Linked DNA regions of Homo sapiens. The protein of the gene in region 4 purifies or fractionates together with the protein of the main gene of each other region. This does not show direct contact. Each region holds a gene or a part of one and is shown on either strand. Other genes may lie near its edges.

Region 1 (7,449 bases), about 95 Mb from region 4:
AAGACCAGCCTGGGCAATATGGCAAAATCCCATCTCTACAAAAAATACAAAAGTTAGATTGGTGTTGTGGTGTGCACCTGTAATCCTAGCTACTCAGGAGGTTGAGGTGGGAGGATCTCTTGAGCCTGCGAGGTCGAGGCTGCAGTAAGATGTGACTGCAGCTGCATTCCAGCCTGGGCAATAGAGTGAGAACCCGTCTCTTAAAAAAAAAATCAAATATAATATTACTCACTCATATCTCTGGTTTTAGTTCTTAATCTAATACAGAATGAACAATACAAGATAAAAGGATAAAAGCAAAAGGGGCAGACAAAAATATAATTTCCACAGAAGACTTTGTATCAGCCAACTCCAGATACACAGGAATAGGCAAAGGCACTTTCCTGGGGCCAAGAGAACATGACCCCCTTTGATTTCCTATGGTTGCCTTCTGCCAGTCCTAAAAGAGCTGGCAGGCTGGTATCAAGCAGTGAACATTACAGAAACAGCATAGTAAGAGGTAGATAATTCAGAAATCCCAGCGGTATATTCAAATATAGGTTGCTGGTATGAGGAAAAACAACCTACAATCTTCACAAACCCAAAAGTCAATAACAACTAATTTCTCCTCTCTCTTCCTTATCTCCCTCTGATGCTATCCTCTCCCTTTTCTTGGACTCCTTCTATCGAGATTATACTATAAACTACTCCAAGTAAGAACTATTCAATTAATTTTAACATCCTCCAAATTTCCCTTGCAGTGAGAGAAAATTGAGTCAACACTGGTCTATCCCACATGTATTTATAAAGTAAAAGAATAATAATGTACTTCTAAGGTCACTTCTAAGATTGTACTAAGGCTGCAACAACAGTTCCAAGAGAGTTTAAGCATGCTGCCTCACCCCAGCGCTTGCGGCTCTCCTAGCCCTACCTCGGTCTGCCTTGGTTTCTGTAACCTGGCTGTTCTGTGCAATCACTTGTACATTATAGGTGTGAAAACAGTGAGAGAGGGAAATCAACTCCATGACGGTGGGGCACAGAAAGCGTGAACCATGATTCAGAGCCTTACAGTCAACTGTCATGTGTATGTGTCATACTCAAGGCAATATCCTGCTTCTTGAGGCTCCTTCCTCTTTGCAGCCTGCTGCCTGTGCTGTATGCTATCAGCCCTTTGTGACTCAACTGAGACAGACTAGAGTCAGAAAAGCGGATGGAATTCTTACACAGCATGAAGTAGTATAAGAAATCCTAGGCAGAAGGAAGTTCAGGTAGCTCTCAGGGCTAGGAAACTCCTCGACAACGAGGGACAACCAAATCCAGCATTTAAAAACTCTGTATTTTAATTCTTCTCTTAATATAATACTTCCTTCTTTATTGATTGCTGAGCATTCTAGGAACTAGGATAGGATTATTTGGCCTGAAGGAAAGAATACTTCTCGAACCTGATTTGTTAAATGAATCGAGATTGCTTTAAAGTGAAAGAAGGGAAAAGAGAGTTATCTCTTTTGCAGGAGCACATTTCAATCACTTATCACTCTGGGTTAGCATAAATCAGATAAACTATCCTGTGGGTTGTGCAAAAAGCAAAACAAAACAAAAAAACACAACTTGTAAAAAAAACAGAGCAAGATAACTGAAGTAGACAAACTCTGCACAGAAGTAACTAATGGCAGGGAGGAGAAAAATTTTTGTATATTATATTATACTGTGTATAATATAATGTACCTGTGTATCATTAGAGCTGTTAAATTAAAAAAAAAAAAAAAAAAAAAAGGAAATGGATGCAGAAGCTCTGCCCTCCTGGGGCCAGAAATGGCAATTTCAGTGAACTAGGGCCGACAACCACATCCAAAATTAAATATTTCAAAAGCTTAAAATAAAAAATACTAGAAAAATTATGCAGAGCACCTATTTCATTTGTTAAAAGACATTTAATTAGTGTTTCACATATTACCACCCAAATGAATAAAGCGATTGTGAAATTCAAGAAAACAATCAAACTACAAGAAAACTCCAGATAAAACTACAAAGTTAAACATAAACTTGGCCCAGGACCACTACAGTGGCTGAGGGATGACAAATACAGTTCTTTATATTGGTAACCCTTAGCCATCCATCCCATTCTATAGAAAGAGGACAGTACCATCTTTGACCCCAGGCCCCCTGTCCTGAGGTGCTTCTACTTAATGCCAGGAACAACTGTGCTAGAAAAAAAGACTGCACCCACCCCAGCTCCAGATGCACACATTAGCTGGTCGGTGAGATGCAGCAGCCTGGCTTCCTCCCTCTACCCACTCCTTGGGGGCGGGGCTGGAAGAGGAGAATGATGAAGAGATGTTGGGGGTTCAGGAAACCTTCACATTTGGCCCCTTTTCTCTCTCCCCACTCAGGATGGAAGGTCAAAGTTAGGACCAAAACTAGAGAAGTGGGTTTTGCATAGGGGGACAATGGATTCAACAGAAGTCCTCTGGATCTGGCAACTGTCAAAAAACCCTCTTTCCACTTCTTTCCCCCTCACGGAAAGCCATTAGGAATCACCTCTGTCTGGGTCATAGGAACAGCCACACAGCATAGGAGGCACAAGCCCCGTGAACAAAATTCGGTATTAAGAATAAGGAAAAAGAAAGAAGACCCGAGGGCAAGAGGGCAGGGCAGGACCTCTTCTTTCTACTGGAGAAGAGACATCCAGGGAGGAGGCACAGCCGAGGGGAGCGCAAGCTAGAAAAGCTACGACGGAATCCCCACCGAAACCGCAGCAGGGGTACTGGAAGGGGAGGAATCCGCGACGCAGCGACCGCGAGCCAAGGGCAGCGGCGGGCCGGGCCGTGACTCAGTGAAAGCCGCAACGGCCGGGCCTCGGAAAACGGCGGGCGCGAAGCCGCCGGGGCCGGGGCGAGAACGGCGGCGGGGGCTCACCATGTCCTTGGACGAGCCCAGCTTCTTGAGGCCGTCCAGGGGCAGCAGGTCGGCGGAGTCCTTGTGGATGAACTGCACCGCCTGCTTCATCCGGCGCTGCTGTCGCAGTGACGCCGCCTCCCGCATGTCGGTCTCCTTGCGGCCGCCCTCAGTGAGGAGCCCTGAGTAAAACATCGCTGAGGCGCCGGCGGCCCGGTAGCCCACAGCCCCCCGGCAGCCTCAGCCTCGAGCTCCTCCAGCGCCGCAAGGGCCCCGAGCCGCGCCTTTTATAGCCGAGCGTGACGTCGCGGGGAGCAGCCAGTGCGCGCGCGGGGGGCGGGGCCGGCACAGAGTCCACGCCCCGCGCGGCTCCCTCGCGTCCCGCGTCCCGCGTCCCGCGTCCCCTGCTCACCCGGTGGCAAAGCCGGCGAGGAGGCGGCGGCGCTGGTGGGGACTGACCCGGCAGTCCGAGAATCCACCGCGGCCTTTTCACCCAACCGCCCCCTCCTGCGTGGGGGCCCCGCATCCCCTGGACTGGCGTGGGCTCTGGGGCCCGATGCCCTGGCAGCCCCGGCCATCTCTGCCGCTGGCCGCGGGTACCTGCTCACCTGTCCACGCCGTGGCCGACCCGGGGATCACCGACAGCCGGGCCATGCCTCGAGTCCCGCCGCCCGCGCCGCTGCTCGGCTTCTCAGAAACGCACCTCCACGCCGCCAGCCGGGGCTCCAGGGTCCACCGCCCGGGCCCGGAGGACTGGCGACTCCCTCCGAGGTTGGGAGCGCTCCGGATTTCTCCAACTTCAGGTCGGTCCCCACCCACCGGGCCACGTGACTGGGGAGGGGGCAGCCGGTGCAGGCGTGTGGAGGAGGCTTTCGGGACCTCCTCCCCCGGGCACCCTCTGCCTGCAGCCCGGCACCCGGCCCGCGTTTCCGAGCCGGGGGAGCAGGTGCAGTCGGAAGCCCGCGGGTGGGCGTGGGGCGGGGGAGTGGCGAGGGTCCCCCGCCTCCGCGGGAGCGCACGCGGCTGCGAGCCCTACACCTGCTCTCCGACCAAAGAAGCACCTGTTTTTCTCAATAAGTGCTAGGGCTTACCATCTAAAGGATCGTTCACCATCCCTCCAGCGTCCTTAGTAGGAGCGATTGGAACCCGTTTTTCTTCCTGAATAATCCATACTTTTAAGCCATTCTAATCGGGCCTTCAGGCATCCTGGATTCTGGTCTCGACATTGTGATTTGACACAAATCACGTTTTCACTCTGGAAACCACAACTACTCCCTCCACCCCATCACGCAGGAGCAGACCTGGATAAGAAATATGTGCACTCTGCAAAGAACCAATGATAAAAGTAACAATATCGACGCTTACTGAGCCTTTACTATGTGCCAGGTACTAGACTAGACACTTAAAATGCAGTATCTCATTGGATCCTGGCAACAGCTTGTAAGATAGTATTCTCATCACCCCCATTTTACAGGCAAATACCTGATACCTTCTGTCTGGCCTCCTGAATGCTCCTTGGTTCCATTCCAATACGTTGTTCACTGTGCTGCCAGAGTAATCTTCTCAAACGATAAGTGTGATCATCTCACTTCCCTGCTAAGAGCACCTCAAAAGGCTTCCTATTGCTCTTAGGAGAAACCCACATTCTTGCATGGTCTGCCTAGACCCTGCATATTCACTCTGTACTTCAGCCTCATGGGCCTTCTTCCAGTTCCTTCCAGTCACCTGTTGCCAAATGGCCTGCCTTTGACTGTCCTGTTCCCTCTGTGTGCAGTGCCCCCTCCTACCCTCTTCAGGAAACTCCTATGCTTCTTCCAGACCTCAGCTCCATTATCATTTCTTTAGGAAAGCCTTCTCTGACCTTCCAGAGAGAGTGAAGTCTCTCTAATTATATACTATCTATCTCTTGGGCATTTGACACTTTCTGTGGGGGTAGGGGTAGGGGGGTACTGGTTGTTGGATTAATATTTGTCTCCTCCACTGATTGGAACCTCCAGGAAGGTGACTGAACCCATTTTTTGCTTAGCATTGATGCCCTAATATGCAGAGGGTTCTCAAATACTAGTGAAAGGATGGCAAAAAGTTAAGGTCGTACCAAAGAAATCAAGTGGTAAAGCTGGCATTTACTCCCAGAACCTGTGCTGGACTACCTAGACCTGGAGAGACTGGGTTTGGCCTCATGAAGCTGCTTCTTTTACTCTGTTCTGCCTTCAACACTTGCCCCAGTTTCAAAGACTGTTTGTGGGAAAACAAATACAGAAGGCTGCTCACTTGGCTTCAAGGAAGCCCCAGGGCTGGATTCCTCCCTGTGTGCCCATCCCCTACTTTCCCCTACACACGGAGGACAGAGTCTCTAGGAGACAGGTGGGATTGCTGTTCACCTTCCAGTCCCCTGGCACACTTCCAGCAGTGAACAACAGTGGCTGCCCTGGCCCCTTCTGTCCCATCACCTGGATCCCTGCCTGATCACTCCTCCAGGTGCAGATCACCCAGGGAACAGTGAAAGTCAGCTTTGCCTTGTCCGTCTAGGAGAGGTGCCTCTGAGTTTGGCAAAGCATCAGGGCAGGTCCAACAGTGAGGGCCCCTAGGGCTTGGGCTGGGACAGTGACTTTCCTCAGGGAGGAAGCCAGGCAGGTAGACACTCTCGGGGGGAGTTGGAATCCCCACTCTCCAGGCTGCTCAGCTCAGACCTGCAGCCTTTTTTGCTGAGGATGTCCTGACAGAAGAAAGGGGCTCTTTTCAGAGCTAGATCCCCCTGGGAACACCAGGAAGCTGAATCTCTCTAGTTGAACTGGAATTTGCCCATATCAAGTGTTGCTGAAAAATAAATGGTGCCCGACTGGAACTGGGAATCTTTTTGTGAATTCAGAGCCCTTTGGTGTAGTGGGATTTGTGTTCTGCAGTTGGGTCTGTGGCTGCAATACCTGTTGGTCCCCTCACCTGTCTGAGACCTTCCTTGGACAGACTGATACCATCACTGCCCTCAAGGTTCAGTGTGGTGAGGCCAGCTCCTTCCTCCCCCCACACATTATGAGTATTCGCAGACTACAGACTGCCTGCTTAATTTAAGGAGAGTTATCTCTGGGTGGTTTATCCTGTTTGCCCAAATGACTTTGAGTAAATCACTTCCTACCTCTGAGCCTCAGTTTCCATATCTGTAAAATGGATGTAGTGAGACTGCATATACAATTGTGCTTTGTAAACTCTCTAGGGCTGTACCAACAGAAAAGATTATTATTAATTCTCCATATAGCCAATCAACGTCCCCTGCCTCATTGACCCATCTTGGAGGAAGTAACATACAATATGGTTGTTAAAAACACAGGTTTTGGAGTCTAATACACTAGATTTGAATCCCTGCTCTGCTGCTTACTAGCTATGTGACTAGTTAGTTACTGCACCATTGTGAGCTTTCAGTTCTTCATCTAGAAAATTGTGCCAATATCTCTACTTCTCAGGGCTGCTGTGAGAAATAAAACGATAGACAGTGTAATACATTGGTCATGTAGCATAGGCTCAGCAGAAGGTAGCAACCATCATTACCTGGAACAACTTCAGGAAAAACTGTAGGTTGCAGAACCCTCGAATTGGGGCTGGCCTATCCTTTCTCCAGGCTTCCCTACAGAGCTTCAGACATGAAGCCAGACTTGAGTATCTTACCCTATCCCTAGAGCAGAGGCCTGCTGAGGCAGGGGCTGGCCAGCTCTCTTCCTCTCCTCAGTGTCTCCAGATTCTGGACTTTCCATGTGCAATGGCTCTATCCTAAAGTTCTCTGCATCCTCCCTTGGCTGTTATAGAAGACCTGTACTTGAAAATCATACTAGAAAATCCAGTACTGTTTCAGTGTTAGAATGCTATTCACGTTATTCTTCTTATAAGTGACAGATACCCAGTTGAAAATTTCTTATGTGAAAATGCAAATTTTTGGTCCCCTTAATTTAAAAGTGCAGGGCTTCAGGCATGGCTGGATCCAAAGACTCAAATGACATTATCACTGTGTTTCAGCTCTGCTTTCCTCTGAGCTGATGCCCCTGTAGGCAGACCCTTCCTGTCTGATGGCTATTTGTGACTCTAGGCTTACAACCTATTCTCCTAGCAACCCTCTTTTGGGTCTTCAGCTAACAGAGAGGCCTTTAAGAATGAGAAACAGGATGAGTGCTGAGGCTTGGAGGCCTAAAAAGTAGAGGAGAAGAGCAGAGGATAAAGGGGAGACTGCCAAGAAATTTTCCTCCCCATTCCCTCCCTACCCATGCATATTGCCCTTGGCCATACCCTGAAGTCAGAATGGCCACTCCTAGGACCCTCATCATGCACCACCCCATCCTTATAGCTGTAGGATCCCTTTCCTCCTCAGATGTCCTCACCACTACCCCAACCCCCTTTGGCAGGAAGATTCTTCGAACAGCTATCCAGATGTGTGCCAGGATCTCTGGCTACATGGTACCCCTGACTTGGCACCCAGCTCTAAAAACTGTGTCTGCTTTGGCAGTTAAAGCAAAGATAAGAGATATTTCTGTCCTCTTCCTTCAGAGTGATTGCCAACATCACCATGACCTCAAGAAACAGGGCTGATGG
Region 2 (8,024 bases), on a different chromosome or scaffold from region 4:
TTAGGCCATTATTTTTCCCTCACAGTTCTTGACATCTGCAAATGGAATTATGGTTGTTCTGTTCTTTTAAGAATCTGGGTAGCACCACGTTTCACTTGCATTGTAACTCCCCCACAATATCCCATCCAATGTAATAAGGATTCATGGCAATCCATGCAGCAGCCTGTGATGCACAAAGTAGCCCAAGATTTAAACCCTCCTGCTCGCCCTATTAAAATGTCAAATCCTAAGCACACAAATAAAAACATACCACTCTACGATAAGATATTCAATTATTCTCCAATTTCCTGTTATAATTAATGAATCATGATACACAGAGCACTGGGTAGAATTCCAAACACCAAATTATGTGGTCAAAAGTTTCTAAATTGACAACTGAGCCAGCAAACCATACCTTGCCATCAGCACAGACACACAGTCACAGTGTGGAGAGTTCATCTGTTTTTAGCTGGATGGGTAGTGGGATTTCTCATGGCTTCTGCTTTTCAAAGCATTTACTCTCATTCTAAAACAGTATGCTACACACAAAACCATCCATTTTATTCCAGGATACATCTTAATGAGAATAAAAAGCTTCTGTATGCACATACTGCCAATACATTTAAAAAGGCCTAAATTTTAACAAGTAGGATAGACAAATTCATCAGACAAAAGATCATAAATTACTTTGGCCGAAAAAAATCTTTAAAAAAAATCTGGCTCAACATTCTGCTTGCAGGTTTCTATATATACTGTATATGTGGTGAGTGTGTATGTGTGCGTGTATATAGAGAGAGCTTTCTTTTGTTTAAAGGGAATGGAGAACGGTCTAGCCCACTTTCCCACAGTCATGTAGGAACTACGATGTTTTTTGCGAGCAAAACAAGAAGTGCAAGGTCTGCATTCCCACCAACTCGATGCAAAGCTCCAAGAGCTTCCTGCAAAGTAAAGCCAGCACGGAGAATGCGGTCAATATCTGTGGCAGGAAAAATCAATGGTGGAAGAATGGCAGGACTTGATGATGGATGGCTGGTAGGTGGTTCATATTCAAGTAATGGCCTCGAAGCATCAGGACAGACATTTTCTCTGGTTTCAGGCCTGTCTGTTACTGAATTCTGTATGCCCTGACCTAAGTCTTTAACCAATATGAAATTGGATGACAAAGACTTAGTTTGCTCAGAAGTCTGATTGAGTGCATCCTCCTCACCTGCTAAAAGTTTGGGTGAAATTTCTACACCTAAGGTGCAGTGTAACTGATTGGATGTTTTAGCTGAGGTTACAGTGACAGAACGGTTCTTATTTATGGATTCCCTAGATTTGGGGACACCTTCCTTATCGGTTGACAGGCCATCACCTAGACTCCTGAAGTTTACATTTTCTACAGCTTCTCTTCCAGTGTCAGATGAAGTACCTGTTAATTTTTCTGTCTCCACTGATACAGATATGGCCTGATGAAAGGAGACTTGTGGACACTGTTCATTCTGGGTAAGATGCTCATTTTGGGTCCATCTTTCAGAAAGGTCTTTAATACTGGTTTGGCCCTCAGCTATGGTTTCTGATTGACAGATTACTTCTTCAGATGTATTTTCTGAAGCTGGTTTACTGCTAACAACCAAAAGTTCATGAAGTTCTTTCAAGGCTGCCGTTATAGACGGGCAAGATTCTTCTGCTGACTCCACAGAAGGCTGACAACTGCCACAGAGACTTGGAGAGGAGTAATGGCCATATTCTTTATTTGTTCCAGGTATTTCAACATTAGTTTCTGGGGGCTGTAAATCCTGAGTGGAAATGGAATCATTCAAAATTTCAGATGAAGGGTTACATTTTGATGTTTCTACTTCCATCAAGGGATTATCTAAAGTGAGATCCAATGCACCAATGTTCTTGACATTGGCATTCTGCCTGCCTGTTGAATTAAGCAAAGTAACTAGGGACTGTTGAGCTGTATCGATTTCCATAAATGTTTCTGAATTTGAGCAGCCACTGCATTCTGAAGATGGAATACTTTTCTTCGCACTTGGAGGATCCACATTCTGTGGGAGCCCATTTCCTTTCATCGTAGCTTCCAAATCAACAATTTTGTGTTGATTCTGTTGCCTTTCTTCAGGAAGCTCAAGGTCCCCTATGTTACAAAGATATTCTTGGTCATGTGAAGCTTTTTGTTGTGCAACCTCATACTGTTCATTCCCTGGTTCTTCGTGCTGCTGAGGGTCACTCACTTGACTCAGGTTCTGATTTTCTGGATGCCAATCCTTTTCACCTAGAAACATCTGTGGTTCATGCATCCTAGTAGATGTGACAGATAAACTAGCTTCCTGTCTTGTATGGAGATGAAATTTGAGGCCCTGGGTGCTTCTTTCAGCAGATTTCTCCAGATTACCTGCAACAGTTATTTCTTCGGATGAATTCTGCATAGGCATAGCTGGACTCTGGTCTGTTGGAGCATGGTCTGCTGAGGAAGCATGATCAGAAAGATCTTGTAAAGAAAGATGTTCTTTCTTTTCAGAGTTTAGCTGGAATTCAGCTGAAGCCTTCAAAGCCTTCACAGCTTTAGGTTCAATGCGATCTGAGTCACTGGGCTTGATAGGGCAGACTGAAGCAGAGACAGAGCGAGCAAGACTCATAGGATTACCAACATCAGGACTCTGTCCTGAAGAACGGGCGGGATGGTTAAACCCATCTGAAGTTGGTAATGATGACATTCCCAGTGAGGTAGATTCTTTACCACTTTTCTCTATATGGAACACAGGGGAAAGGAAAAAGATTAATTAGCAGGTGACTAATGCCACTAAATTACCAGAGGATACAAATCTAAACAGCGTAGAATAAAATAAGGTCCTCAAACTCGGGTTTCTCTTACACAAATAGAAATGATTTTAAAATTACTTTCTCATTGTGGTAGACATTCACAGCATCAGAATAAGAGGTAGACATGTTCTTAATAAAATCTGCATACTGTAATTCAATGTGATTAAGTATCCATTAATATGCATTCACATAATGGCGGGGTTAGTGCTCAGGAATGAAGGACATTTATGTTTCTTTATTCCCTAGTCTAGTCTACAACTCTAGAATAGTTTCTCCAAGTGTACTTTTTTCACCACTTGCCCTAAAACCACCAGGGACGCTTGTGAAGTATGCAGACCCTGGGGTACCATACTTGAGAGTAAATCCAGGAATGTGCATTTTCAATAAGCTCCTTGGGTGATTCTTAAGGATATTACAAATCCTGAGAATCTTTGCACCAGAATGATTCTCATGTTAATGCACTTTTCTTGTTTCAAATGTGAACACTGAGGTTACAAATGAGAAGTCTTAAACCAGGTATACCTGGACAGAGAGGGAATTATAAAGAGAAATAAGAAATAACATAATGCTTGGGGACAGAGAAGCAAATGTTCTATTTTATTTCTAGCCAAGCTTTCCAAAAATCATGGTAAAACTGGGTGAGCATCTGACTCAGAAAACAAAAGTAAACTAATGATCAGCAGATTAAATCACAATCATCATCCTACCAAATAATACAACTCTAAACTTAAAAGGCTTATAAGTTTTTATCACATCAATAGTGTGCAACTAAGTTAAGAATATTTAAATGTTTTAAAGAAAGGGGAATGTGGAGGGAGATGGTTCATTAATAGTTTTTCAACTGGCAATGACTATTTAGATTCACTGCTACCTTAGACCACCCAAACAAGACGGCTCAGTGTAAGCATCATAGTATCATTAAACATCATTTCCAGCTCTTCTTTTGCCACCAATCCAGTTAAAAATTGACCTCTACGCATGTAAGTGTAAGAATTTTTTTTTTTTTTTAAGACTGTGTTTTGCTCTTGTTGCCCAGACAGGAGTACAATGGCGCCATCTGAGCTCACCGCAACCTCCGCCTCCCGGGTCCAAGCGATTCTCCTGCCTCAGAGTAGCTGGGATTACATGCATGCGCCACACACCCGACTAATTTTGCATTTTTAGTAGAGATGAGGTTTCTCCACGTTGGTCAGGGTGGTCTCAAACTCTTGACCTCAGGTGATCCGCCCGCCTCAGCCTCCCAAAGTGCTTGGATTACAGGCAAGAGCCACCGCACCCGACCATTGTAAGATCTTTAATTAAAAATCAAAAAGGGCTGGGCACAGTGGCTCATGCCTGTAATCCCAGCACTTTGGGAGGCCGAGGCAGGTGGATCACCTGAGGTCAGGAGTTCGAGACCAGCCTGGCCAACGTGGTGAAACCTCATCTCTACTAAAAATACAAAAATTAGCCAGGCGTGGTGGTGGGTGCCTGTAATCCCAGCTACTAGGTAGGCTGAGGTGGGAGAATTGCTTGAACCCAGGAGGGAGAGGTTGCAGTGAGCCAAGACTGCACCACTGCACTCCAGCCTGGGTGACAGAGTGAAACTCAGTCAAAATAAAAAATAATAATAATAAAAAATAAAAATCAAAAGGTCAGTAACAAAAATGACTTCAAAATACAATCTATTATTAGGACAGATGCAACTCAAATGCTCAGTACTAAATGTTAACATCCAACAAGAGGGCTTGATCTTAAAAAGCAGCAAAGCAGTTATATTCAAAAGGCTTTAAATCATTCTAATAAACTACTGGTTAACAGCATGAGAAGACAAAGCATTGTTTCAGGAAGCTATTGACTTCCCATGAAACAATCTTACCTTACTTACACTTTAGGAGTAAAAAGGAAAACTGCACTTATCTCAGTTTAGGCTATACCCATTAGAGTCTAGAAACACAGTTATTAGTTTTTTTATTTTCATACCACCAGATGTCTAACAGTTATTAGTTTTATTTAAAACTAAGGCTGACTCTGGAAGAGGTTGAATTTTGAACTAATGTTAACAGAAACAATGCACTGTAGTGAAATATCCATGTAAGCAACATAAAGAGGTATGGTAAGGGCCTTCTGGTATTTGTGTGTTAGTTATAAACAAGTGAGGTCAAGGTGAACACACCCTCAATGAATTTTGTACTAAAAAAGTAGCATATAGTCCTCTTGTAGCTGAGAAGGTCAGTTTCACTAGCCTAAGTCCTAAACGTAGGGGAGGACTAGGTCAGTTTACAGAATGACAGGAGAAGAGGATGAGGACAGTGGATATTAAGAATAATTCAACTATGCCTGCTTTTAACCTATCCTTACAAGGAAAAGAAAAAGGAAAGAAAGAAGAGAAACTAAATGCTATGTATCTAATTCCAACCAGCTTGCAAACTCCTACAAAGTCTTATGATGCTGGTTTAAAAGACCATCTTTCCTCCTCTTAGTAAGTCAGCCAATGTATTCGAGCTGATGTTTACCATTATTTACATCAGAGGAAATGGAAGCAGAGTGCTTCCTGAAAATCTGTCAGGCCAGAGACAGAAGGAAAAGCAAAGTCTTAGTTCCTGTTGTTCAGAGTCACCCCTGACAAGTCCTCTGGCCTAAGTTTCCATTTCTTCTTCAACAAAATTAAAATTTCTAACCCTCTATAACTCCAGGTAGTTGTATGCAGTAATGTAAAAGAACAGCTTTCAGTTTTTCAGAGGAAAGGCACTTATGAAACCCATGAAAGCATAGTTATCTCCAACAACAAAGTGTTGTGAGGCCAATATTCTTGATGTGATATTTATAGTAGCCAAGATGGGGTAGATATAATAGACACTGTTTTAACTGGGATTTTCTCCCTGTTGGATGGTTCTAATAACGAATCCATTTTTAAACAGGAGTTTATGTTACATATCCATGTATGCATGCCAAAATACAAATGCATATAGGCTAGTTGTAACCAGATTGAACAAGGTGAAATGGTGAATGACAAATGCTAACTTCCCAAACTGCTGCGGATACAGACTGTCAGATCACAGATGACAACTGGATGGAAGGCTTAACATGGTGTCTATAAATACCTGGTCTGGGGCCCACTCCAGCTGCAGTACACACACACTACATGCATCATGGCTTCTGACGCTCTGTGTGAATTAGGAAACAGACAAGCAAACTTGGGTTAACAATGCAAACCACACAGCATGCAGGGTTATAGTTTCCGTTCTTTTGCCATCTTTAAAATCAGGAACTGGTAGATTCCAAGTTGAGGGATGTTTCTGTAGTTTGGACATCCAAAATATTTGTTGGTTGCTTCCATTCTCTCACAATACACACAGCAATCTGTTAATTTCAACAGATTTTTAATAGATCTTGTAAAGAAATTAATTTTGTTTCTACACATAGAGAATTCACGGGCAAATGTGAGACAGGTGAAGAAAGTAGATCCACCTGATCGAATTAGGTGATTAAAAAAATCTTATGGAGTAAAGGTGAGTGAACATATCTAACAGTCCCTTTCCAAATTTCTTTCTCAGCTGAGATTCAATTTTAGAGGAAAACAAACCACTTAATTAAATTCTATCCTAGCTTATCTTTTCATCAGTTTTTAAATAATACATCAAGCTGAACACAGTGACTCTGGCCTGCAGTCCCAACACTTTGGGAGGTCCAGGAGGGAGAATCCCTTGAGGTCAGGAGTTCAAAATCAGCTGGGGCAACATAGTGAGACACCATCCCTACTATCAAAAACATGTTTTTTTTTTAAAACATTTTAATATAGAGTTTATAATAGAGTATAAAGTATTTAAAAAATAAGCTCTTTTTTTTGTTGTTTTTTTGAGACAGTGTCTCACTGTTGCCTAAGTTGGAGTGCAGTGGTGCAACCACAACTCACTGTAGCCTTGATCTCCCCAGGATCAAGTGATCTTTCCACCTCATCCTCCCAAGTAGCTGGACCACAGGTGCATGCCACCATGCCTGGCTAATTTTTTTTCTTTTTTTTTTTTTTTGAGAAGGAGTCTCACTCTGTTGCCCAGGCTGGAGTGCAGTGGTGCAATCTTGGCTCACTGCAACCTCTGCTTCCCGGCTTCAAGCAATTCTCCTGCCTCAGCCTCCCGAGTAGCTGGGATTACAGGCGCCCACAACCATGCCTGGCTAATTTTTGTATTTTTAGTAGAGATGAGGTTTCACCATGTTGGCCAGGCTGGTCTCAAATTTCTGACCTCAGGTGATCCACCCTTCCTCAGCCTCCCAAAGTGTTGGGATTACAGGCGTGAGTCACTGCGCCCAGCCGTGGTTTTTTTTTTTAGAAACAAGTGTTTTGCCATGCTGCCCAGGCTGGTCTCAAATCCATAGGTTCAAGTGATCTCCCCACCTCAGCCTCCCAAAGTGTTGGGACCACAGGCATGAGCCACCATGCTTGGCCAGAAAGAAGTTGTTAACAAAATACTTTCACCTACTATGTCCAGAGTATTTATTCGGATGATATTAGGAAGTCGATGTTCTAAATAAAAAGGACCTGATATGTAGAATTATTTCATTACTTAAACATTACAAAAATTAGCACAAGCTATACTACCAGCAACAAAAGGTTATTTAGGTAAAAAGCCATTTCTTTTTAATTCTTTGAAGTTGGTACATCCCCTTCACTAAGCCTGGAAACATATGTGTATCTGTTTTAATCTTCCAAACTTTTACTAAAATAAGGTAATTACCAAAAAAGGATAACTGTTATTAGTAGGTTAGAAAACACTGCTATTATCAGCTAATGTTTCTTAAATAATGGCACCAAGACTGTGGAGGTTAAAAGGAAAAAAAAAAAAAAGACATTTCATAAAATGATAATATATCCTCATATTAACACACAGCATCACGACTAAGATGATAAATTACACCCCAAATGCAAAACCTTGTAAGGAGCTATGTCAAATTCATTCAAGCTTACCTTGCAGGTAAGATTAAAACTATTAAGTTAGTCTCTGTCTGGTTGTTCAAAATTCCTCCCTTCCTACAAAATACTTAAGTTACAACCAAAACTGTAGTTAATATAAAAACTTGAGCCAAAAAGTGATGGGAGTCAATTCTGTTGTTTTTTTTTTTTTTTTGGACACAGGATCTCACTCTGTCACCCAGGCTGGATTGCAGTGGCAGCGATGATGGCTCACAGCAGCCTTGACCTCCTGGGCTTAGGTGATCCTCCCATCTCAGCCTCTCAAACAGCTGAGACCATAGGCGCG
Region 3 (7,281 bases), about 92 Mb from region 4:
AATCATGGCAGATAGTTGAACTGCAATTATGATAACTCAACAGGATCAATTTTATTTACATGCTGAATAAATGAATGAAACATATTCTCTACATCCATAACTTAAGTACAATCAGTTATAATTACAACACTGCAGCAATCTGAGCTGCCACCTGCTGGGATCGGTCTAAGGGAAACGTTCTGATGTTCCAGAATAATGTTCTTAATACTCTGCAAAAAATGAAACAAAATAAAAACACAACTTCACAATTCCTTACTGGGTTACGGCTGGTTCCAAGAATTTCTTTTCTTCAGCTCCTGTTTTTGCTGCTTTCCAAGAGTCAACACACGTTGGATTTACTTCTGAATTGTCAATGAGGTAATGTGTGCATCAGTGAAATAAACAGAAAATTCATTCATTCATGGCCTTTGCACAGCTTTTATTATTAAGCTATGAGCATCCTGTTTGAGGCTAGTTTTACTAGCGGCTATGTGCACATTTGTCCGCAATAAAAGAAGTTTACTCATTCCCCTGTCCCCTTTTCTAATAGAAGGTTAGCTTTTTTTGTTGTTTTTTTTTATTTTTTTGCACATCCCTTTTCACTTTACAGTACATTTGACTATAGTGCACAACATGATTCCGAGTCAAAACAGTGGCCCATTGGGCACTGAGCTTCTGATTGGTGTAGGGCAGTCCAATCAGTGCTGGTGTCACTGGGTTACCCCAACCATGTCCGGCCAAAATGGCACTACCCAGTGGTAGTGAACCATCTAATTAAAACCAAAACTCCCCCAGGGAAAATGCTACACTATCAGAGTCAGTCTTGAGTCAGATCTTTATTTGGTGCTCCATCCAGATATATTTTTAGTGCTTTCTCTTTACGAGGTGAGTATGTTACACGATGTCCAGTCTTCTGGAGTCGACTGCTTTCTTTTTTCATCAGTTCATTTCTTTGCTCATCTGTCAATTCCATTAATTCTTCTGTTTTATCCCTACATATAAAATATTAATCACATATTAGTCCAGTAGAGCCCTCCACCTCTATTAATGTATGCTTGAATGCTATGATGCTCCTCAGCAAGATAATGAAATCTGTTACTGGTGAAGTAATATTATTTTATATACTGAGATGTCCCAGATTTCTAAGGTGTTAATCACAGGAACATATTGCTTACTTCTAAAAGTGGCGGAGAATAACTTCCATGTTATTAGCAGTAGTAACAGCTATCATTATTGAACATCTATAATAGGCACTGTGCCAGTTATTTTACATGCAACAGCTCTAATTCTCATAAAATCCTGCAAGGTAGACATCATTGTTGCAATTTTATAGATGAGGAGCTAGGTAAATCAGAAAGCTAGTTTTGAACCCAGATTTGTGAGGCTCCAATGACTATTCTTTTTCCTCTACATCTGTGCTGTCCAATACAACAGCCATTAGCCACATGTGGCTATTGAGCTTGTGAAATATGCCTGGTTCAAATTGAGATGTGCTGGAAATATAACAGACATACAATATTTCTAAGACTCAGTACAATAAAAAAATGCAAAATACAAATGATTTTTTATACTGATGACATGTAATGATCATATTTTGGATATATTGGGTTTACAATATTTTTAAAATTAATTTCACCTGTTTCTTTTTATTGTTTTTAATGTGGCTACTAGAAAACTTCAAATTATAATCATGTTTGGCTGTCACTGTATTTCTACCGGTTAGTGCCGCTCCATATCATAAAAACAGTAAAGATATTTATGGAAAATAAGATATGTATGCACGCCAAAAATGTATTACTAACAGCAACAAAAACATTGTGAATGTTACCTATAAAATATGACCGCACCATCATCACAGATATAAAGAGGCCAGACATTCAGGGTAGAAACTTTAGGATTCCAGTCTAAATCCTGATGAATATCAAGGACAGAAATATCACAGGGAAATGTTCCTCTACCCTAAAAAGAAAAAGAATGAATGAATAAATCATGCCACTAGCTGTGTTTATCATGCACAATACACAGATGCAACATTCTCAGGGCTTTACCTTAGCAAATTCAATATCATCCAAAGGAATCCCACTGATTTCACTAAGCTGTAAAATAAAACATTTTATTTGAGTTCATTTAAAAAATTAACTTGCTTAGAAAAGTTATTTTCCTTTTACCCCACAAACAGAAATAGCTCAGTTTAAAAAATGTTTCATGTAAAAAAATTAAGAAAAAGCAGAAAGCGGCCACCCTGCAAATACCATGTCCCAGAAATACCAAGTTAGTATATTCCTTCCAGACCTTTTCCTATGCATACACAAACTACACCCACGTTTCTAAAACATGTAAAATCAGATTAATATCTCTATATAATAATTCTGTTCCTAGAGGAATAGGATACAAAGTGACCACATTCTCTTCAATAACCGAACAATATACATTTTATCTCCTACTGATGGACACTGAGACTGTTTTCAGTTTTTCCAAGTTACAAAGCTCTACTGTATACTTCCATGAATATCCTCGCACATGGTGAAACCCCGTCTCAACTAAAAATACAAAGAATTAGCCGGGCGTGGTGGCATGTGCTTGTAGTCCCAGCTACTCGGGAGGCTGAACCAGGAGAATCACTTGAACCCGGGAGGCGGAGGCTGCAGTGAGCCAAGATCGCACCACTGCATTCCAGCCAGGGCAATAAGAGTGAAACTCCGTCTCAAAAATAAATACATAAATAAATAAATTCTTTTTTCTTGAGACAGAGTCTCACTCCATCACCTAGACTGGAGTGCAGTGGTGCAATCTTGGTTCACTGCAACCTCCACCTCCTGGGTTCAAGCAGTTCTCCAGCTTCAGCCTCCTGAGTAGCTAAAATTACAGGCATGCACCACCACACTTGGCTAATTTTTGTATTTTTAGTAGACACAGGGTTTCACCATGTTGGCCAGGCTGGTCTCGAACTCCTGAACTCAAGTGATCTGCCCACCTCAACCTCCCAAAGTGCTGGGATTACAGGAGTGAGCCATGGCACCCAACCTGCAAATACTTCTACAGATCGAATTCCCAGATGTTTAATTGCAAATCCGAAATACTGACAAATGATGCCAACTGAACTTGAAAAAAATCATATCAATTTATACACTTATCAAAGGTATATATTGTCTGTATCCCCTAAACCTTGAGAACTCTAGGTATTTTTTGATTTTCTAAATCTTCACCAATTTAAGAGTGAAAAATAACGTTATTCTTTAATTTGTATTTCTTTTTCTATAAATTGCCTATTCATGCTGTCTTTCTTAAAATTAGATTTGTTCCGTCTTTTTCTTATTAAGGTAGTAGCTCCTTATAAATTATGGACAGCATGTTTAATAACTGCTTCAAATAATTTCCTCCTAGTTTATTGTCTTTTAGCTTTGTTTATGAGTTGCTTTTTAAATACCTTTTTCTTTGGCTATGCAGAGGATAGGTTTTTACGTGGTCTATAGTTTCTTTTTTTGGCTTCTGGTATTATGCTTACAAATATCTTTTTCCAGGAATATGAAAATATTTTTAGTATTTAATATTTTACATATTTTCACCTAGTACATTTACTTTTTTTATATATAAACTTAATACATTTAGAATTTATTTTTGTGTTTAGTATGAAGTATGGAAATAAATCTTTTTCAAAATGCTCATTGTGCTAGTACCACAGATTGACTAATTCACCCTTTCCCCAGAGATCCTTAGATATCCCATCTTAAAATGCAAAACAGACCTTCATCTGGATTCTCTACACAATTCGACTTCATTTGGTTTTTTTTAGACATAAAGCAATTCACTCTAGTAACTTCTAACTAATTCTAACTACTTAGGACAAAATTGGTCCAAGTAACAGAAAGTGAGGATCCACTTCTGAATGGCCAGGAGCCAAAGTAATTTTTCAAAGAATCAGGAGCCTGAACAACCAGAGTGTGCCACAAGGTGTGACAGAAACCAAAAAGAAAGGTTGCTGCACCAGTGTTTGGTACTACTTCCTAGGTTTTCTCTTACGCAACACAGGAAGAATGTATTGTTTATATATTATATATTTTATTAATATTATGATATACATATACAACATAAGATACATGTTTTGTTTAAAATGAACTTACCTTCTCTCGCAATTCGTCCACACTACTGCTTTCCAATACAACCTCCTGGAAGGGATCCAACTTCATCTCTGAAGGCTTCCACCGTCTTGACAAAACTGCAAGCTGTGACATGGACTTCATCTTCTCTACCCCTAAGAATATGCAAGATTAGGTCATCATTCTATTTCCTCTGAAGGTTCATAATTTGACTTTTCCCTTAGTGCCTTACTAAACAAAAAGATTTACTTCAAGTGTTACTCTTAAAAAGTGGGCACAAGAAAAAACCCAATTATCCCAAGGAGTTTTTGAGAATGAAATATTTACTCTCTTCTCTCCAGTCTCAGAAGATAATTCCTCTCTTCTTCAAACCAGTACTCCTAATTCCACTCCCTCCTGACTCCTGTTGAACACTGCATTACCAATTACTCTCTTCTCTGGATTTCCAATCTTTGTTTCTCTATTGGCTCCTATCCCTATCTAAAATCATAAACAAATCAACTTCACTTTATCCTCTTTTTTCACTAAAGCTATTATTAATCCTTCTCTTTCCATTTACTCCCCAATTTAGTGATTCTTCAAAATTGTCACTTTTCCATTATGTCACTTTTCAAGCATCAACTCAATTGTCACTTTTCAAGCATCAACTCAATTGTCACTTTTCTCTGGTGTACACAAGAAGAACTTCTACTGATTCAGTCCCTTAGTACCTATTATTTTAGAATGACAGGTTTGCAGTTCTGTTTCTTCCACAGACTGTGTGCACCAATAAGTGGTTCTTACTCATTTTTGTAGCACAAGGGATTAGCAGTGTCTGGCAAATTACAGGTCAATAAATACCTCTTGGATTTAATCACATGACATTTCTTACTCAACTATCTTGATGTGAAAATATACTGAAATAATACTGATGCAGGCACCCACCATCTAGTACCATTTTCAGATGAATCCATCTCTGCTAATACATACTCAATCCTTACAAGGGTGACTTCTTTGTCATTTATGATCTCTTCCTGACTTACCCAGGCACAGTGATTATTCCCTACGACCCCAGATACTCAAAGAAATCACAATCTGGAGCACTTGCCTACACACCATAGTAGATGGTATCCTAGTTGTTCCTTACCTCCCAACTTAACTTGTCAATTAATCAGAATTTCAACCATTTAAATTTATGGTTGAATTAGACCTGAAGCAGCCTGAAATACATGAGGTGTTAGTATTATTGAGCTCTCTAAAAACTAGGATAATCTTGTAACAAAATATCCAGAATTCATATTTTACTTTCTACAGAAGAAAAGGAAAATTAAAATTTTCCTAAGCAACAGCAAAAAAAGAATATAGAACTAGTTGTTTACCTTGATGTGATCTTCTAAAAGCCAACTTTCCTCCTATAAGCCTCCCTCCAAACACCAATACTTTAAATGTGCCAATGTTGATAACGAAAACTGGGAGGTGTGACAAGTATGTCTGCTACTTGGACCTCCTCAAGGTCACTGCTATGGGTTGAATTGTGCCCCCCACAAAAAGACATTTTGAAATCCTAATCCCTAGTACCTCAGAATGTGACCTTATTTGGAAATAGGGTCTTTCCAGTGATACTCAAAGTAAAATAAGGTCTTCAGGGTGGGCCCTAATACAATAGGACTAGTGGTTTATGAAAAAGGGGAAAACAATACAGACAGACAAGCCCACAGAAAGAACACCACATGAAGATGAAGGCAGAGACTGGGGTGATGTATCTACAAGCCAAGGTTGCCAATGATGGCCAAAAACCACAGAAGCTAGGAGAGAGTATGGAACAGATTCTCCCCCACAGCACTCAGAAGGAACCAACCCTGTTGACAGCCTGATCTCAGATTGTGAGACAATACACTTCTATTCTTTAAGCCACCTGGCTTAGGACACAAATAGTCATTGTTCTTGAGTCTCTGATAAATTATCAGTACCATGTCTTCAATACAAAATAAGCCATAATAGTAAAAAAGAAACTAAAGAACAAACGTGGCTAAGAAAATATTAGCAGAGTTTTCTTAAAATGTATTAAAAACCTAACTTTGTAATTTCCTCATAAGGGGGAATTAATATTCTCAACATTCAAAAAAAGAATACTTAAAAGGCAAATGGGAACCAGAGAAAGATAGCAGAAGGCTGAAAGACACTGATTATTCTTTCAAAAACAACTTAAGCAGTTACATTAGGACACAGGGGAAGAAAATAAAACTCCCAAGGATAAGACGTAGGTAGGAATCACATCAATCCATAATAAGGATATCGTTATGCTTAATATAACACAAAACACTATAATGTATATTAGATTCCTCGTAACTCATTATTTGATTAAAAACTATAGGCTTCTATTAGTTCTAGAGTATTTCTAACTGATACTTCCCCCCAAAAATATTGAAAATACCATCAAGAACTTCAAGGAAAACCTCCCAGTTGCTGGAAATATTAATATCTTCTTCATAAATATGATAATCCAAAAAGACAGTGCCAGGATTCTTCCATGTTTTTTTCCTTAGACGAAACCTACAAATGTGATAAGACATTTAAAACGACTATAATTTGAAACTCTCAATTTAAAGATTGACACTAATCTGACACCAAAGAAAAATGAACTATGTTCAAATACAAAAGTCAAATAATGAGTTGTTAAAATCTGGGGAAATAAAGAAATGTTTCCAGTAATTCAAATTTAGAATTCTGTATAGGAAATCCAAACAAAATTTTAATACTCTTGTTTAGTCCTATTAAACTAATCTGTCATACTAAAATTCTGAATAGCACAGGAAATTTTAATTCTCCTAGTTTTAGAAAATCATACCAGTCCATTTCAACTGACCACATAGTCTTTCTTCAAATCGCTGATGACATTAATTTTACTTTACCTGTCAATACTGAGCTCTAAACCACATTGCTCCCTGAGCTGAGGAATTAATTCCTCTTTTGATTGCCGTACAGTCATTCCTTTAGCAAACACAGCATCTAGCAGAAACTTGCATGGCTAGAAATATAAACATAAACAATCAGAGCTTGAATTATACCTTAAGTACATTAATATTAACACATTAAAATAAAAATTACCAAAACATTTTATTTGCAATTAAGGGCCTGAGTTTCAGAGTCTATCTTCCTTTTTTGAAACCTTAGCTCCACTATTTATGAGCTCAGCTATCTTGGGCAAGTTTACTTAAAATCTCTG
Region 4 (7,180 bases):
CCCTGACTTTACTCTGAATGTCTTTTTTTGTTAATTGCATTTGTTTTGAGTTCTTAATTACAAACAAAAGTAGGAAAGAAATCTGTTCATTTGATCATTTTTAGTAGTTCTACTGGGTATAAAACTTTGTGCAAATGTAGACCAGACTGGGAAATGTGAGCATGGGAACACCTATAGAGAAGAAAAATGGGAGGTGAACTGATGGTGGCTAGAAAGGAAGAGGTGACTCTCTTTAGAAAGGTTGATTAGTATTACCAAGAAGCAAAACAAAAAGTATATGGAGATTATAAGGGAGAGTTATTTTTTTCTGTATCCTTTGGGAATGCTTTATGTGGCTTTATATCTTGTCGGGAAAATAGAATAACTTAAAGGATATCCCAGATCCTTTAAGATAATGAGGTTTTAGTGCTTGAAAAGTGACCCCTCCCAGGAAAAAAAAAATTATTAGGTGAGGAATCTCAGTTGTAAAGTAGGTGAACTAATTTGTCTAAGTAATTAAGTGTAATCAAAACATACACATCTTGATTTTGAATCCGCTGTTTTAATACTAGTTTTGATAAATTATTGTCCTGAAACATTTCCCCTGCATCTGATGGCCTCAGGAAGCTGAAACTTTTCTCTCAGGTGCTTTAGCCATGGGTTGTAATTAAGTCTAGGATCTTCCATTACCCACTGTCAGTTGTAATAAACACTAACATTGTCAGAATGGATAATTCTGAATGAGGCCTTAGAGATCTTCTCATTCAAAAGTTTTCAAATGTTATTTTAACAGTGAAAACCTTTGTTCAAACAATACTGATGTAGCAGCAGCTTAATGTATAAAGCAGATTTTTACTTTGAAAAAGAGAGAGAGATGATCTAGTTGCAATGACTATTAGAGAACCTGGACCACTGCCTGTCCCCACCTCTCATTCCCACCACTGTACAACTTGACTCCCAAGAAGTACCATAATTTCTTTTTTAAAAAATCTAATTTATTGCCTTTGTTTTATAGCCAGAGTTTCTTTGAATGCAGGAGAAATAGAAAATTAATGTAGCATCCTTGGAGATAAATCCACTTTCTCAAATATGGCAAAAATAGTCTTTAGCTGTGGATTGCAGGGTGACTGCAGGGGATCCAGGGGAAGGGAAGGTGTAAATATGAGGAAATTGGTCTTTATGCTGCCCCAAACAGACATGTATAAGTATTAGTTAACATCATAGTGTAACTGACCTACCATTTCTAATACCCTTCCCAAAGAAAACAAAACCTGTGAAAATGGGCATATTTCTCTCAGTAGAAAGAATTATTAGTGCTGATGTGAAATAGTTTTATGTGGATGCCTTGTAAGGTCTGCAGCCATAGCATTTTTCCAGGGAATTCTGCAAAATAGCAATGATTTGGATAAGCCACCTGTAATCTGATAGGATAGTGTCTCTAAAGGAAGAAGCTGGTTTTCTTTTTCATGGATTATCTGGAAATCAGCTGGAGCCTCCAGAGCCTTCCCAGGATGCCTTTCAGTGATCTCTGGACAAGGGAAATGGAAGAGGGACCAAGACCAAGGAATCAGGATTGACGTTAGTTACCCATCTGAGAACGTAGTCCCAAGGCCAGGTTTAGTTGTTACTGATGTTTTTTAATGATTACATTGCCAGTAAGCTCTTAACTTATAATTGCCGGGGACCTGAGGCTCCCTCAAGGTGGTAACATATTTATAACGTGCTTTAATGCTCTTTTCGTCCTGAATCCATGACTGAATGTGTAATTTCCTTGTCCGAAGACTCATCTTGCCCACTTACCATCCTAGAGCATAAGGGCAACTCTCCCTCAGGAAGAAAATAAGTCTGCGTGCCAGTGGTGCCGATGACCAGCACATTTTTCTTCAAATCGATGGAACATTGATGTCTCCGGAGCATATCTAGGCCTAGAAGCATATCCATGGGTTGATCCTCAAGTATGGAGAAAGAGCACTGTAAGAAATCACCTTCAATTTGAATCTGAGCTAGATGAACACGGCCAATAATTCTCTGTGTGCCCACTCCTTTAGCAACCCCAGCCCACCGTCGGTCCACCAGCCTCATGATGTTACATCGCTCGGCACAAGCCTGGCTCATAATGGTCATCTGGGCGCCCGAGTCAACAAAAGCCTTCAAAGGATGCCCATTCACTTTGCAGTTAATGTAGAGCATCGTCACTTGTCCAAAACTCTCGGGGGCCTCTTCTATCGCTATATTCATGTTTTCTTCAATGTTTTGCTGCCGGATTTCCTCTTCTATTTTGGCCTGAGCTTCCCGATCCAGTGGGTCGGCTGTGTAGAGACGAAGCCTCTCTTGCTCTCTCAAGGCCTTTTCCCTTTGCTGCTCCATCAGCACCTGAGAAAAGGTCTCAAGGCTTCCGCTGAGCAGGGCTTCCGCCAAGGGAGGGTTGCGTTCCTTGAGCAGGGACAGATCGTGGGGGTTGGAGAGCAGCATGCTGCGGATCAGGGCGGGGCTGCCCAGACCTTGCAGGCCGGCCACCTTCTCTCCTGACGCCAAGCCCTGTGACCGCTGGGCAGCGGGTGTGCGCTGCTGCTGCTGTCCAGGGTGCTGTGGACGGGAGCTGGACGTCCCAGGCACCGCAATGCCACTGAAGTCTACACGAGGCTGGTTCGGGGCACGCCCTGGAGCCCGAGGTCCCACATTGTCCTTCTGCAGTAAAACCACGATATCGCCATCTTTGAGGCCGTAGGAGCCCAGGGAACAGTGGTCCTCGATGAGGAGTCGCTCCATGTGGATGATCTGGATCTCTTCGACGGGGACTCTGGACTCCGCTTCGCAGAGGACCTTGAAGTTTCGGAGCTCAAAGTCGGGGCTGACCTGGAGAGAGAAGGTGACCTCGGAGAGGTCCCTCCGCACGCAGTACACGGTGATCAGCATGGCGGGGGCCCGGGCGGGCCGGGCTAGCAGAGGGCATGGGCGGCTCACTGGCGGGCTGGGGCGGGCCTGCGTCGTTGGTGCCGCTGCTCCTCAGGACTTGGTAGGTAGGGACCGTCCGGGCTCATTCACCTCTCAGAGAGGCGCGGACACTCATCTGTCTGGGGGCTGTCTCCCAGCCTCAGTGCCTGCTGTGTGGCCAGGTGGAGCCTTGAGGTAGCACGTTGTGTTCCAAAGTCCATTTCTAAGTGTGCTGTTTGGAACCTAGAATGCCTACTCCCATGGATACACGATGGCTCAAAGCTGTCAGGTTTCAAGGCCAGCCCTTCAAAGCCTATTTAACACATGATATGAAAGAAATGATTTCAACACATTTTTTTTTGAGACAGGATCTTATCCTGTCACCCAGGCTGGAGTACAGTGGCATAATCACAGCTCACTGTAGCCTCGACCTCGTAGGCTCAAGCAGTCCTCCTCTCTCAGCCTCCTGAAAAGCTGGAACTACAGGCACAGTCTACCATGCCCGGCTAATTGTTGTATTTTTTTTTAATAGATTTGGGGTCTCACTGTGTTGTCCGGGCTGGCCTCCAACTCCTGGGCTCAAGCAATCCCCCACACTTCGGCCTCCCAAAGTGCTGGAATTACAGGTGTGAGCCACCATGCCTAGTTTTTCAACACTTTCTAAACAGCATATTATCATTTGTTTTGTTCATTTTAGAGTTGTATTCTTTGTACTTTTGTTTTTTCCCCAAACAGTAAGGATTTGTTTCTTACATGGCAAGTACCATTCTATGTGCATAGTAGGAAAGTCAGATTTGGAGCCTGCCCTTGAGGAGCTCACATTTCTGGAAAGGGATAGACAGGTGAATGGGTAATCACAATACTAAAGGCAAAATCTTTTACAAAGACATGTTCAGGGTACTGCCTTTAGTATCACCAACAGAACAGAGGATATTTTCCTAAGGAGGAGACAAGCTGGATGTTGAAGGATGAGCATCTTCCAGGTGCAAAGTGGTCTCACTCCAAAGGAAAGCAGTTTCATGTTACAAAAGCAGGAATTTATGGCAAGGGCTGTTATTTCTAGAGAAAGATGAGACATTTTGTGCAATAAAAAAATTGTACATGACTTTGAATACCAGGATATGAAGCTGGAAAAAAATTAGTTGAGCCAATTGATGAAGTCATATGTGAATCTACGGAGTTTAAATATTAAATATTATCAATTAGCAAGAATTCCTCCTCCAAAAAAAAAAAAAAAAAAAAAGAAAAAGAAGTAAGGAAGGAAAGGAAAGGGAAAAGATTTGAAGCAGGTGTTTGTGATTTTTTTTTTTAAATTGACTTAAGGAAGAGGCTTCTTGCAACACATGGAGGACATAATGTGGCAGGAGGGCCAGTCAGGAGGCTTTTCCAGTGGTTCAAAGAGGGAGCTGTTGCTAGAGTGTGGAAAGTCAGGAGGCCCAAAGCCAAAGCAGTAGAGAATAAACATGTTTCTTGAGTAAAATGGACAGAGTGTGCATACCCCTTGGAGGTGGGGAGTGTAAAAAAGTGGAATGTGTGGATAACACAGAGGGTCTCTAAAATGGGATATAGGGTAGATGGGCCATTGCCTTGAAGGGGAATGAATGAATGAGTGAGATGAACCTTTGAGGTGACCCATTTGACATCAGTTCTGTAGGAAAATTCATTAAGGATGCCACCCTAGAGGCCAATATGCCTCTCTCTGACATTTGGGCACAGCCACCTTCTCCCTACTCTCCCCCACCCCCACTTACACACACACACATACAAGGCTGTCATGGTGAAAAGTCCTTCAAGGCAAATGATGATTGGGTAGAAATCCTTGCATGCCAGTTATTTTTCTCTATGTTTAATAAAGTGTTTTGCTGCCTGGCGCGGTGGCTCATGCCTGTAATCCCAGCAGTTTGGGAGGCCAGGGTGGGCGGATCAAGAGGTCAGGAGATCGAGACCATCCTGGCTAACATGGTGAAACCCTGTCTCTACTAAAAATACAAAAAATTAGCCAGGCGTTGTGGTGGGCGCCTGTAGTCCCAGCTACTCGGGAGGCTGAGGCAGGAGAATGGCATGAACCTTGGAGGTGGAGCTTGCAGTAAGCCGAGATTGCGCCAGTGCACTCCAGCCTGGGTGACAGAGCGAGACTCCATCTCAAAAAAAAAAAAAAAGTGTTTTGCACTGTGCAGAGCTCATGTTTCCCTGGCTTGGTACTCCCAGGTGTACCTACTTATGAACCAAGATAGTCGATATCCTCTGCCTAGTTTCACCCCCTTCTTTGAAGGGTTGTTAGAAGGCCTGCACTGTTACACCATTATTCCATTATGGAGAGAAGGAAGTCACATCAGCCTAAATAATTATTTTTTGGCTCCTGTTTCTCATGTATTTGTCTCAGATGGAAGACTATGTCTCGCTCACTGCTCTAATTATCATAATGTTTCTATACTCATATTTGCTTATATTAGAAATGTTGACTGAACGCCCAGTGTATGTGAAGCATGTGCTAAGTTCTAGGGAAACAGACGTGAATAATGTTAAATATAGGCTGTATTCTTAAAGGAGCTCACAGTCTAAATTAGAGCACATGCACACACACAAATTGAAGGGTAAAAAATACCACAGTAGTGGTATTCAGGAGAAATTAATAATATCTGAAGAAGAGATGAAGAAGATGGTGAGGGATGTTGGGGAGAGAAGACATCCTGAAAGAACTGGGTTTAGAAAGATGACAAGGAGTCAGCCATGCAGGGTGCGCCAGAGTGGAGACACAAAGGTGAGAAGGAAGATGACCTGACTTAGAGCTTTCAACTGGAAAGACAGTGTTTCATCATATAAGGATTATTTTTTAATTTTAAGAAAAAAAATCTAGCATTGTAATTTTCACCATTTTTACAGATGAATGAATGACCCTTTGACTCAATAATATTATGTTATGGTTCTTTGCACCCTGACAAGTTTATCAGAGATTACTAGTGCTTTCCCCTGAGTTTGGAAACAATTATCATGTGAGATGTCACATGCAAACTACTCTGCTAAAGAACAGATTGAGAAACCAGTAAGACTTTAATTCAGTTTTCCTTTATCTTTTTTCCCCAAATAGCTTTGTACAATTTGTTCTTAAAACCATAGCGAGGAGGATTATACTGGGGCTTTTGTTTTTTTTAATAGCAAATGAAATTATTTTTGTAGAATAAGCTTCCTTTTGTTTTTCATAAAGCAAAAATTGTGAGTTCACATGAAAAGAAACTAACATCTTTTTTTCTATACCATTGCCTTCATACTGAACATATTTAAATTCTATGTGATGTGTTTTATTATCTCACTGTAATTTTTTTACTTTGGGTGGCACTTTACATTTATTTGTTTTTCAGCATTTTACCTTTTACTGAGAACAGACACTGGAAAGCAAAAAGCCTCAAGGTCTGGCCAATGAGCTGTCATCATTTCATTGGTCACAGGATGTCAGGGTTGGCAGGGATCCCTTGGATTCCATAGTCCAGCCACCCATCCACCCCTTATATCTGTTGCAAAACAGCCTGGAATCTGTAAAGGTAAACACAGCCTCCTGTGTTTAGTACTTCTGTGTATACATCATTTGATTCTTTCATTTTACCCAGCATGATTTGTGATTCAAATACCATATGTATAATTGTCCCAACTCAGAATTTTAAATGAAAACCTCTTCTGACTGTATAATGAACTTGGAGGTAATTGGAAATATATATATATATAAAATATATTACACACACACACACACACACACACACCCCTAAACATAAACTGTTGTTATACCGTAAATCCCTATCATGTAGTCTGTTGAGAAATGGGTTATCTGAATTATTGAGGTATGTAAATCTAAGTAACTGAGGTTATCAAAACTTTTCTTGAGGAATTCTTTGTGAAGTATACTCCCTTACTTTTCTCCCTTAGTAAGTACAATATAAGAATATAATTAAATTTTTTTTGATAAGTGAGATTCCTGCAGAGTCTCCAGGCTATCACTCAGAAATCAATTCTAATTGTATGGCCTAAATGCCCAGAAAACAGAAGAGATGGTACTGATTTCATACTAACCAAGTAAATAACCCCAAAGTTATTTTTTTAATAAATCCACAATACCTTTTGTAATTTGCCTCTTTCTAAAAATGTAGCAAAAAAAAAAAAGAAAAAAATCCACATAACTGATGGTTTCAGTTATGATAGTCAGTTGATGTTTAAACTACTATCTCTTGCTGTACTAAGCAAAATAATTGTCTTTTTAGTGAAAAAAAATAGAATA

What was found.
Region 1: the proteins of DDI1 (region 4) and NRIP3 purify together in Homo sapiens (affinity purification with mass spectrometry; 4 studies listed by BioGRID and IntAct, with this or other methods). This does not show direct contact.
Region 2: the proteins of DDI1 (region 4) and RSC1A1 purify together in Homo sapiens (affinity purification with mass spectrometry; 3 studies listed by BioGRID and IntAct, with this or other methods). This does not show direct contact.
Region 3: the proteins of DDI1 (region 4) and USP47 purify together in Homo sapiens (affinity purification with mass spectrometry; 3 studies listed by BioGRID and IntAct, with this or other methods). This does not show direct contact.

The regions. Positions count from the first base shown.
Region 1 is NC_000011.10:9,000,867-9,008,315, forward strand, and holds the start of NRIP3 (nuclear receptor-interacting protein 3), read right to left. Parts: upstream 3,136-7,449; 5' UTR 3,070-3,135; coding exon 2,896-3,069; intron 1,730-2,895; exon of another isoform or gene 1,049-1,729; intron 1-1,048.
Region 2 is NC_000001.11:15,654,526-15,662,549, reverse strand, and holds RSC1A1 (regulatory solute carrier protein family 1 member 1), read right to left. Parts: upstream 2,838-8,024; 5' UTR 2,682-2,837; coding exon 828-2,681; 3' UTR 517-827; downstream 1-516. Other genes in the region: DDI2 (protein DDI1 homolog 2), read right to left, coding at 5,917-5,933. UniProt on the Homo sapiens protein: Mediates transcriptional and post-transcriptional regulation of SLC5A1. Inhibits a dynamin and PKC-dependent exocytotic pathway of SLC5A1. Also involved in transcriptional regulation of SLC22A2.
Region 3 is NC_000011.10:11,949,691-11,956,971, reverse strand, and holds part of USP47 (ubiquitin carboxyl-terminal hydrolase 47), read right to left. Parts: intron 7,084-7,281; coding exon 6,968-7,083; intron 6,609-6,967; coding exon 6,490-6,608; intron 4,232-6,489; coding exon 4,101-4,231; intron 2,076-4,100; coding exon 2,028-2,075; intron 1,939-2,027; coding exon 1,808-1,938; intron 972-1,807; coding exon 797-971; 3' UTR 1-796. UniProt on the Homo sapiens protein: Ubiquitin-specific protease that specifically deubiquitinates monoubiquitinated DNA polymerase beta (POLB), stabilizing POLB thereby playing a role in base-excision repair (BER). Acts as a regulator of cell growth and genome integrity.
Region 4 is NC_000011.10:104,032,538-104,039,717, reverse strand, and holds DDI1 (protein DDI1 homolog 1), read right to left. Parts: upstream 3,079-7,180; 5' UTR 2,896-3,078; coding exon 1,705-2,895; 3' UTR 522-1,704; downstream 1-521. UniProt on the Homo sapiens protein: Probable aspartic protease. Seems to act as a proteasomal shuttle which links the proteasome and replication fork proteins like RTF2. Required, with DDI2, for cellular survival following replication stress.